2 separate regions of the Homo sapiens genome follow, and region 2 is linked to region 1. The links come from fine-mapping of genetic effects on gene expression. Tissue or cell type: whole blood. Region 1 holds a variant in brackets; the other region holds the start of a gene. All regions are shown on one strand. Distances are from middle to middle.

Evidence for each region.
Region 2: it holds the start of ADRA2A, and the variant in region 1 is fine-mapped to the expression of ADRA2A in whole blood (TOPMed, PIP 0.95).

Annotation. Positions count from the first base shown.
Region 1 is chr10:111,116,549-111,121,919 of GRCh38, forward strand. It overlaps HEAT2 (HEart disease Associated Transcript 2), which reads left to right. Exons shown (of 3, transcript NR_159949.1): 3 at 1,412-2,048. Among named protein-coding and RNA genes, the nearest start is that of HEAT2, 4.9 kb to the left of the region's middle. The variant C/A (reference allele first, on the strand shown) is at 2,775.
Region 2 is chr10:111,074,421-111,079,791 of GRCh38, forward strand. It overlaps ADRA2A (adrenoceptor alpha 2A), which reads left to right and starts at 2,609. Exons shown (of 1, transcript NM_000681.4): 1 at 2,609-5,371. The coding sequence starts at 3,577. The coding sequence ends at 4,974. RefSeq lists a silencer at 2,572-2,621.

The DNA.
Region 1 (5,371 bases):
AGCACCTGCAGGCGCGTGTCTTCCTTTCCCAGTCAGTGTTTCTCTGAGCATCCTGATTCAGATTCCAGGCACTGAAAGACCCTCCACAAATGTTTCACTGCTTCAGGTGCTCATGCCTGCTGCCCCACCAGGATTGACCCGTGCTCCCCGGTCTCTGTCCTCTGCCGGGAGTACATCTCCTCCACCGGTCTGTAAGTTCCTCTCTGAGGAACGTGCCCTGTATCCCCACGCAATCATTTCCAGGAGCCCTATGAATCTGCATTGTTACAGAATCTGTGAGAGGTCCCTGTGGACCTGCCCAGCCGCCCCAGGCGACAGGTGTTGGCGCTGCCATATCCCTCCCTCCCTCTGCACATCGAGCACTGGTCCTCCCCTGTTCCTAGCACGCAGCCTGGCACACGACAGATGTCCAACTGTTAACTGAGTTGTCCCAAATAAGCCTAGTGGCAGGAGCCCCGGCTGGCTGGGGATTGGGGGTCCAAGGCCACAGACACCCTCAGGTCTGTCCCAATCCATAGGTCAGACAGTGGGTGGGGGTGGCCCTTTAATCGAGGGAGGGGTGCGTCAGGCCGAGGCCAGAACGTTCAGGCTAAAGCTGCTTGAGCCTGACAGAGCTGGGAGCAAGGCCTGCTGGGGAGGTGCCCGGAAGGAGCTGTGATTTCAAGCAGCTCCCTTAGCGTAAGCTCTGGGCTTCTGCAACCCTGCAGAGCACCTGTCTCCCTGGGTAGGGCTTAGAGGGTGAGGCCCCAGCTTTGTGACCTTGGCTCCTGCTGACAAGGGTGAGGAGGTGAGGGAAGCAACTGCCGATATCTGCTTTAGTTCAGACCCGGGAGCCATGAGTATTCTCCAGCATGATTCAGTTTAATGAACACTTGCTTAGAGCCTCCTCTGTGGTAAGGCAGGGTATCTCTCTCATGGGGTGTAACGCCCACATTTCTGCAGTACCAAATGCCAAGAATCAGGTTAAATATTTTAGGTATCTTTATCTCTTTTAACCTCATGACATCCCTGTGAGGTAGGTATTATTCTTATTCTTGTTCTCATTTTTCAGATGAAGAAACTGAGGTTCCAAGAGTTTCGATGACCTCACAAGTACATGGGCAATGCACAGCAGTGTGGAGGCCCCAGAGAGGGGAGCAGAGTGGGGCTGCTCCTGGGGGCCACTGCTACTGCTGAGACATGGGGAGGAGGTCTAAGGGCAACCCCGAGGCCATGGAGCAGATGGCCTGTGTAGCAGTGGTTGTCAGATGGGATAGTGTGACTGTCTGACTGTCCTGGCAACATGGTAGTCCTGGTCTGGGGGTCTGGGGTAAGGACAGGCCAGTGTTTTCATGGGGAGCAGGCTGTTTGGACACTGCCACTTCCCTGGCCAGCTTATGCATTGATTCTTTTTCCCATTTGGCTCCCACAGGGCTTGGTAATGGAACTGAAGAAATCTGAATGAATTGTCTGATGCATCGTGACTAAGCTTGGAATGTGCCAACTGTCCCCCAGGAGTGGCCCTTGGACAGCAGAGCTGGAGCGCCGGGACTCTGAGTGCAGGAAGGAGGCCGTGCTCCAGGAGAGCCATTGACAGAGCTGCTCTGGAGTTCTGGAAGTGCTTGGAGGGTGTGGGCGTTGTCACATGAATCTGTGGCACCAGCCTGTTGGCTTTCTGGTGAAGGGGTGGTGGCACAGTCTGCTGTCGTGCCTCTGGTGGTCCACACAACCTTCACACAACCTTCTTCATTTCTGGTCAGCTTTGGATACTCCCAAGCTTTGTCACTGATCTCATTTTGACTTACCAGGAAGCTCCACATCTTGTTCTTTGTTAATTTCATGGAGGCTTGCAGGATAACTCTCACTTTATTTCCATGAACGCTCCATTTCAAGAATGTTCAGGAAGACTTTCATCACCTCTTTTGGGCCTCCACTTCCCTCCCACCTCCTTCCTACATCTGTTCCTCTCTAGAGTGAATGGTTTCAATTTTATCAACGTTTCTTCCTGTGGCTGTATGTTTAGGTCCTTTCCCCATGCTGATCACCAAATATAAGATTTATTTATATCCTACCTAACATGTACTCTTTAAAAATCAGGTGCCCATAATAATGATAGTAGCTAGGAGCTTTTATTGAGCTCAAACTATCCATGTACTTCATGTTCATATTCTCTTTTAATCTCACAATCACCTTTTGAAGTTGATATTGTTACCTCCCACGTTATCAATGAGGACACTGAGATTCTGGAAGGTTAAGTACCTCCCTTGCTCAAAGTTACACAGCAAACGAAGAGTAGAGCTGGGATGAGACCTAGGAATCTAGGCTCTGAGGCCCTCCACCCTGCTACTCAAATTATGGCCCAGAGACCAGCGGCACAGGCAGCCACCAGGGCCTTGTGAGAACTGCTCACTCTCACGCCCACATCCAGACCTCCTGGATCAGGAGGCTGGTGGTTCACATACATGCTTAAGTTGGAGCAGCTCTGGGTCTAGTCTCCTTGGAAGGAAATGGGCCACTTTAATTCCATTGGTGCTGCCTTGGAGCATGTTAGATTTTGGTGTCACAGCCCCTTTTCTATACCCTTAGTTGGTGCTGTCCTCAGGCTCATCTTTGTCCTGCACAGGCCCTTCCTACAGGAGACACATTTTCTCAGAATGATAGTATGATGGTTAATTTTATGAGTCAACTTGGCTAGGCCATGGTACCCAGACATTTGATTAAACATTATTATAGATATTTCTATCATAGTGTTTTTTAGATGAGATTAACATTTAAATCAGTGGACTGAGTAAAAC[C/A]GATTACCATCCATAACATGGGTGAGCCTCCTCCAATCAGTTGAAAGTCTTAATAGAAAAACAAAACCAAAAAAACTGACTTCCCCCTTAATAGAAAAAGACTGAAGAAGAAGGATTTCTGCCAGAAAACTGCATGTGGACTTGAACTACAACTCTTCCCTGGATCTCCAACCTGCCAGCCTACCACATTCATGCTCTCTCTCTCTCTCTCTCTCTCTCTCTCTCTCTCTCTCTCTCCTGTTTCTTCTTTTTCTCTGGAGAACCGTAACACACCTTCTCTTTTCTGGAGTCAGAATTCAGTTTTAAGTAGACTTGGCTCTAGGGGTCAGAGGAGATGGATGAATACAGAGGGAAGCCTGGCTGATGTTTGACCGAGGGACAACCCTTATTTCTCTGAAGAAATAGATAGTGTTCCTCATCCTATAACTCTCACTGGGCTCTGTTCTGTAGAGATGGACAGTGGTGTGCACCTGGGCTCTGACCTGTGTTATGCAGTCGCATCTCACATGTTTACACCCATGCCTGCTGCTCCCATGGCTCTGGATCCTCCTGGTACGTATCTCGCTGGTGACCAAGCTTAAGGGTAGGTACCTCTCCTTCAACTCTGCTGCTTGGCCCAGGGCAACTCTGAGGTCATAGCAATGTCCCAGTCAGACTGGTTAGGAGGAAGAGGGGTTGGGGCAGAGTGAAGCAAGGGAGGCTTTCAGCAATTCAACTATCATGTGTCAGGTTTTGCTGTTTTGTGGTTTTATTTCTAATTTTCTTATCCTACTTGAAAAAAGCAGGGTAAAACACTGAGCTTCTTGGTTCTGTAAGTCAATAGTTTTCACCAAATTTGGATTTTTTTTCTATTAATGTCTCCAAAGATTTTCCTGGAGAAATTCCCATTCTCTTTTCTTCTAGCATTCAAATTATAGACATACAAAGTCATTTGATATTTTCCTATTAGTCATCAAGGCTCTGGTTATTTTTCTTTAATCTCTTTCTGTTCTTCAGATTAATACTTTCAATGGATTTTTTAGTTTATTAACTCTTTCTTCTGCTCTCTCCTATTTGATGTTAAACCCATCTAGTAAAATTTTTGCATTAGCAATTGTACAGCTCTCGTTTTTCTTCCTGTTGAGATAGCCATCTGTTTATGAATTAGGATAACATTTTCCCTCAATTCCTTTAAGTCTGATATCTTATTTGGGTACTCAGCATGTTAATGAGGTGTGGGTCAGAGTGCTATGTCCACCAGCACTCTTCACCCTCTCTATTATGCTTTCAAACTTGTAGTAGGCATTCTCTGATAAGACCTAGATAGTTACACCCTGAACATATACAGCCCACTCCTCGGTCTTCAACTTCCAGGGTGCAAGACTTCTAGACTTCTGTCCTCAGCTTTTCCCTCTGTGATATCCTGCCCTGCAACTCCCAGCTTCTCCAGCTGCCTTGAAGTCTGTTTTCTGCCTCTTCAGCCCATTGGTATTGCCATGCTTTGTTCAGACTCATATGCATTACTCTGAAGTTGGGAAATTTCCCTAGAAAGAGAGTAGGGGGTGATTATTGAGCATTACTTTTGTTTTCTCTAACATAACACCTAGTAAATCTTTGAATTTTTATCTTCTATCTCTTATGTTGGGCCATAGAATTGAGTAGTTTCTCTGGCCTTCTTGGTTCTCACACAATGGCATCTTGCCTTTCAGTTCATCTGATTGGTCACAAGACTCTCCTCCTCCTTTTTTTTTTGTTTTTGAGACAGGATCTTGCTCTGCCACCCAGGCTGAAGTGCAGTGGTGCAGTCATGGCTCACTGTAACCTTGACTTTTCAGGCTCAAGTGATCCTCCCACCCATCCTAGCCTCCTGAGTAGCTGGAACTACAGGTGTGCACCACCATGCCTAGCTAAATTTTTCATTTTTTGTAGAGATGGGGGTCTCAAACTCCTGGCCTCAAGCAATCCTCCCATCTTGACCTCTCAAACAAAACACTGGGATTTCAGACATAAGCCACAGTGCCTGGCCACAAAGGCCTTTTTTATTGTGATAGGTAGTATTTATTCCCACTATGTGGCACTCACTGTGTGCTAGGCATTGTGGTAAATGCTATGCAACTATTTCTCACTCTCATATCAGCCTCTTCAGGGAGGTGTTCATATCACCCCCATTTTACATGTAAGGGAGGGGAATGTAGAGGGGTGAAAGGGCTTTCAATGGTCATAAAATAAGGAAACAGCAGTTGAGACCTGAACTCAGGACTCTTCCATCTCATCCCATGCTCTGAGCCATTGCTGTCTTGTTTCTATACACCTATACGCAGCCAAACTTCTCTGCCATTTCAGCCACTTAAAGCACTAACATAGGTTTCTGGAAAACAGTTTCCTCTGGCACTGATTGTTTCTGCCAATGTACAACACAGTATACCCCTGCACTTGATACCCCTGCACTCACCAGACACTCTCTCCTTTCCCCACCATAGCAGCCTTCGATCAAATCGTTTCCAGCACCATCTATGGGTACAGCAGTATCCTAGGGACCCTGAGAGATGATGCAAGAACAATTTTGTTAGCTAAAGGGGTCTTAGAGACACTTAGTTATGTCATCCATTTTGCAGAGG
Region 2 (5,371 bases), 42 kb before region 1:
TCTTTCTGCTCAGCAATGTCTCACTCAGCTTGCACAGCATGAAATCTTCTAGCAAAAATTAATGGTGTCCACATAGCTTTTCAAAGCTCAGAGATACTGACCCTGTGTGACAAACTGAGGAGGCAGAACCTTTGGTGATAAGGAACATGTGACAGGAATAAGAACTCTGTGTATAAAGGGGCCATGTATATCACCCTACACATGGTGCATACATCATGGTACTTAATAAAATGCAGCACTTGTTATTATTGGTATTCGTTGTGTATTGGCCTCAGGGTTCCTGGCTCTGAAAAGACCTGTTCCCATTTTAGGAGAAAAGACTCCAAATCAGGGAATTAAGAAACCACCTGGCTGTTTGGGAAGCATTTAGAAAATATGACAAGAGGTGTCATACACAGGCTAGCAGCAGAAATTTCAAGAAAGATAATTACTGTAAACTTTGTTTTTATTTCCTCTTTTGATTCTGAAATTAGGAAGAAGAGCAGTGTGTTGGAAGCTGGGGTGCAGATGGTAAGTGATGGTCTCCTAAGACTCAGTTCCCGAGTTCTACAAACAGCAACACAGCAAACCCCAGATTGCCACGGGCTCTGATTTTTGTCTCTTAGTATTCATACTTGAAGTGTGGGGTTCCTAGTTGCTGTGCAAAAATGACTGTAGCCATGTTTCCAACTGAGCCTACTGGCGATGTCCAAAGCCCCTGCCAAGAGCCTCAGAGCAGAGACTTTAGTAGAAGATGGAAAATGAGTGACTCAACAGAGCGAGGAAATTGTCTTCTCAGCTTCCTTTAGATTGTCCAGAAAGGGAGATTAGAAAGGCTCCTCAGAACTAACACTGGAAAGGGAGTTTATACCATTAGGGCAAAGATTGGGAGACAAAGGTACTGAAGTCAAATGAGACTTCTGTGAAATACTTTGGAAAGTACAGATTTTGAGACTACATGAACAGCAGCAGCACCAATAACTGTATCACTGGTGCGGGCTATAGACATCAGCTGGGAATGAAGGTGATTCTCAGGGCCCTTAATTTAGCCATCAGCCCCCAGCCAGACCTAAGCCTGCAGCTGGCTGCACAGAGAGGCAGCCTGTTCCATCCTTGGAATTCCAACTTAGGTGACTGCACAAGGCATTTTGGTTTAGTGGTTCCTTAAATAAGACGACATTCCTTTAAGTCTAATCTCTCTCCTGCTGAAATTTCCTACCCTCTTGGGTTTTACCATTAAACTGCTTGCTCTCATCTGAAAAGTGCAGCTAGCAGGGTGCAAGCTAGTGCTCTAGTGACCGTTAAAATCTATCCTAGGACAGCTAGCACGCACGGAAAAACTTGCCATTCGCCGCACACCCACTCCCCCCCGCCCCCACCGCTATTCTTATCAGAGAGAACATGGAAAATATTCTACTCCCTCTTCCCCTTATTGAAGGATGCTGTGTGTACATCTGAATGGGGGTGGGATGCGGGGCGGGAGTGGAGTCTAGCTTTCGGTCCTCAACAAAAACATAATGATTCCCAGCAAGCCAGAGCTGTGCAACCAAGGAGGCAGGATCCTGGCCTCTCTCGGATCTGCAGGAAGGGTGGGCTGTGCGGGTCCAGAGTGGGATGCCCGTTCTGGCCGGCGGTGCCTGCTGAGCCCTTCCTGATGTGACTTTATTAGACAAACCCCCACTCCCGCCAGGGGTAGACACACGAGTATCTGCTTTAGGAAGATTTCTGCAACACGGCAGGGTGCAATTCAAACTCTGGGTTCTCCTTTCCTGAGCTTAGAAACCAATTTGTTCGGAGATAGGAGAAGGCTCTGTTGGCAGAAGACCTAAGAGACGGGAGGAGGCGCCTGGCGTCAGCGGGTCGCTTCTCAGCCGTGACCACGAGCGGCCAGCAGGTGTCAGTGCGTCCTCGCTTTGCCCTGGCGCTCGGCTCCTGGACCCCTCCCCACCTCGGTCTAAGGGGGCGCGGTCCAGACCCCGGGTCTTGCGTTTCCCGCAGACAGCATCGCGGCTGGGAGGACACGTAGCCGCTTCTTCCCTAAGCGGAGGTCTGAACTCCGGCTTGTACCACTTCCCCGTGGGTGCTGTCCATTCCGCCCCAGGGGTTCCATCCGAAGCCGCGCCTTCCTCCCTCTCCAGGACCCCTTTCTCCCCAGCCTCCAGGAGCACCTGCGGACCGCGTCGGCTCTGGCCCGGAGCTGGGCTGCTCCAGACGTAACTCACACCGGAGGTTACTTCCCTCGATTTGGGCGGGGATTCCCTTCCATTTTTTTCTTCCCTTTTCTCCCAAGATCCAGCTTCTTGGGGGCACTCACGGGTGCCCGTTGCGTTCTGCTCCGTCGGCCCGGAGCTGCATGGCCAACTCCCAGCAGGGGCCGCTCCTCCCCTACCCCCCACCCCCGGGCTCCCTCTTTAAGTCTCTAGCTCAAGGTACCCGCCTCTCCAAAGGGCTCGTCCCGCCTGAGGGCAACGCTCCCCGAGGTCCAGCGCTAGGCGCGGGCGCTAGACTGGCGGAGGGGTGGTGCGAGGGGCGGGGGAGGGTCGGCTTCCCACGTGGGGGCTGACGCCGGCTGCTCAGCAACGCTTGCTTGATCCTGGGGCTATAAAACGAGTCCACCGTGAGCGCAGCGGAGCAGCAGCAGCTCCAGCTCGGTGCAGAAGCCCAGCAGCCGGCGTGCCGCCGCCCGGCCACTCCAGCGCCTTCTTCCCCGCCTTGCGCTCCTGCCCCAACTCGCGCTGTCGTCGGACCCCGGCCCATCCAGCAGCGCTCGGCGCCCACCAGGCGGACGCCCAGGAGAACCCCTGCCTCCGTCGCGGCTCCTGGAGAGCTGATCGTTCACCTGCCCCGGCCCGCCTGAGGACGGGGGTGCCTTCATGCGGCCCCCACACTCCTCACCCCGCCGCCGCCGCCGTCCCGGAGCTCCGCACAGTGTGCCCCAGCCCCAGCAGGGCGCACAACTTTGGAAGTCTCGCGGCGCTCCGAGAGGCGGCAGAGTCCGCGCCCCAGCCCCGGGCCGGGCCGGGCCAGAACCGCAGCGTCTGGGGGAAGCCAGAGAGTCGGTAATCGCTTCGGGGATGTAAGGCGACAGACATAGGACCCCCGAGCTCGCATCAGCACCCTTCGGCTGCCTCCCGGGGTGGGGGCGGGCCCCGCACACGGTAAGACCTCTTGCTTTCGCTCAGGCTCAAGATTCAAGATACAGATATTGATATGTATATATATATTTAATTTCCTGTCATCCTTCCAAGTTATCAGGCCACCGATGATTTTTGTTCTCCCTTCTTGAAGAATAAATCTCTCTTTACCCATCGGCTCTCCCTACTCTCTCCCGCCGCTTAGAAATAAAACTTGGCTGTATTAGGAGCTCGGAGCAAGAAGGCGCCCACCGAGAGCGTCTGAAGCGCGAGCCAGGCGCAGTTCGCGGGACCCGGGCCATGGGCCGCTAGCGGTCCTCCAGTTCGGGCCCGGCCTCCCTGCGGCCCCCTCCCTATGTGAGCCGCAGCCAGGCGAGCGGGGCGCCGGAGGAAGAGGAGGACCCACGGGCGCCGGGCCGGAAGGCAGCTGGCAGCAGGCCCAGGCCAGCGGGCGCCCGCGTTCATGTTCCGCCAGGAGCAGCCGTTGGCCGAGGGCAGCTTTGCGCCCATGGGCTCCCTGCAGCCGGACGCGGGCAACGCGAGCTGGAACGGGACCGAGGCGCCGGGGGGCGGCGCCCGGGCCACCCCTTACTCCCTGCAGGTGACGCTGACGCTGGTGTGCCTGGCCGGCCTGCTCATGCTGCTCACCGTGTTCGGCAACGTGCTCGTCATCATCGCCGTGTTCACGAGCCGCGCGCTCAAGGCGCCCCAAAACCTCTTCCTGGTGTCTCTGGCCTCGGCCGACATCCTGGTGGCCACGCTCGTCATCCCTTTCTCGCTGGCCAACGAGGTCATGGGCTACTGGTACTTCGGCAAGGCTTGGTGCGAGATCTACCTGGCGCTCGACGTGCTCTTCTGCACGTCGTCCATCGTGCACCTGTGCGCCATCAGCCTGGACCGCTACTGGTCCATCACACAGGCCATCGAGTACAACCTGAAGCGCACGCCGCGCCGCATCAAGGCCATCATCATCACCGTGTGGGTCATCTCGGCCGTCATCTCCTTCCCGCCGCTCATCTCCATCGAGAAGAAGGGCGGCGGCGGCGGCCCGCAGCCGGCCGAGCCGCGCTGCGAGATCAACGACCAGAAGTGGTACGTCATCTCGTCGTGCATCGGCTCCTTCTTCGCTCCCTGCCTCATCATGATCCTGGTCTACGTGCGCATCTACCAGATCGCCAAGCGTCGCACCCGCGTGCCACCCAGCCGCCGGGGTCCGGACGCCGTCGCCGCGCCGCCGGGGGGCACCGAGCGCAGGCCCAACGGTCTGGGCCCCGAGCGCAGCGCGGGCCCGGGGGGCGCAGAGGCCGAACCGCTGCCCACCCAGCTCAACGGCGCCCCTGGCGAGCCCGCGCCGGCCGGGCCGCGCGACACCGACGCGCTGGACCTGGAGGAGAGCTCGTCTTCCGACCACGCCGAGCGGCCTCCAGGGCCCCGCAGACCCGAGCGCGGTCCCCGGGGCAAAGGCAAGGCCCGAGCGAGCCAGGTGAAGCCGGGCGACAGCCTGCCGCGGCGCGGGCCGGGGGCGACGGGGATCGGGACGCCGGCTGCAGGGCCGGGGGAGGAGCGCGTCGGGGCTGCCAAGGCGTCGCGCTGGCGCGGGCGGCAGAACCGCGAGAAGCGCTTCACGTTCGTGCTGGCCGTGGTCATCGGAGTGTTCGTGGTGTGCTGGTTCCCCTTCTTCTTCACCTACACGCTCACGGCCGTCGGGTGCTCCGTGCCACGCACGCTCTTCAAATTCTTCTTCTGGTTCGGCTACTGCAACAGCTCGTTGAACCCGGTCATCTACACCATCTTCAACCACGATTTCCGCCGCGCCTTCAAGAAGATCCTCTGTCGGGGGGACAGGAAGCGGATCGTGTGAGGTTTCCGCTGGCGCCCGCGTAGACTCACGCTGACTGCAGGCAGCGGGGGGCATCGAGGGGTGCTTAGCCCCAGGGCACTCAGAAACCCGGGCGCTGCCTGCTCTGCGTTTCCTCGTCTGGGGTGGCTCTGCAGCCTCCTGCGGGCGGGCGTCTGCTGCTCCTACAAGGGAAGCTTCTTGCTGCCAGGCCCACACATCCCCAGTTGTTGGTTTGGCCACTCTTGACCTGGAGCCATCTTCCTAGTGGGCCACCCCTAATCACTATTGCTTCCTAAAGGTATTTTCACCCTCTTCGCCTGGTACAGCCCTCACAGCTCTTCAGAGCAAGCACTGGACTACAAGGGCATGGCTCACAAAAGGTTAATGGATGGGGGTTACCTAGCCCTGGCTAATTCCC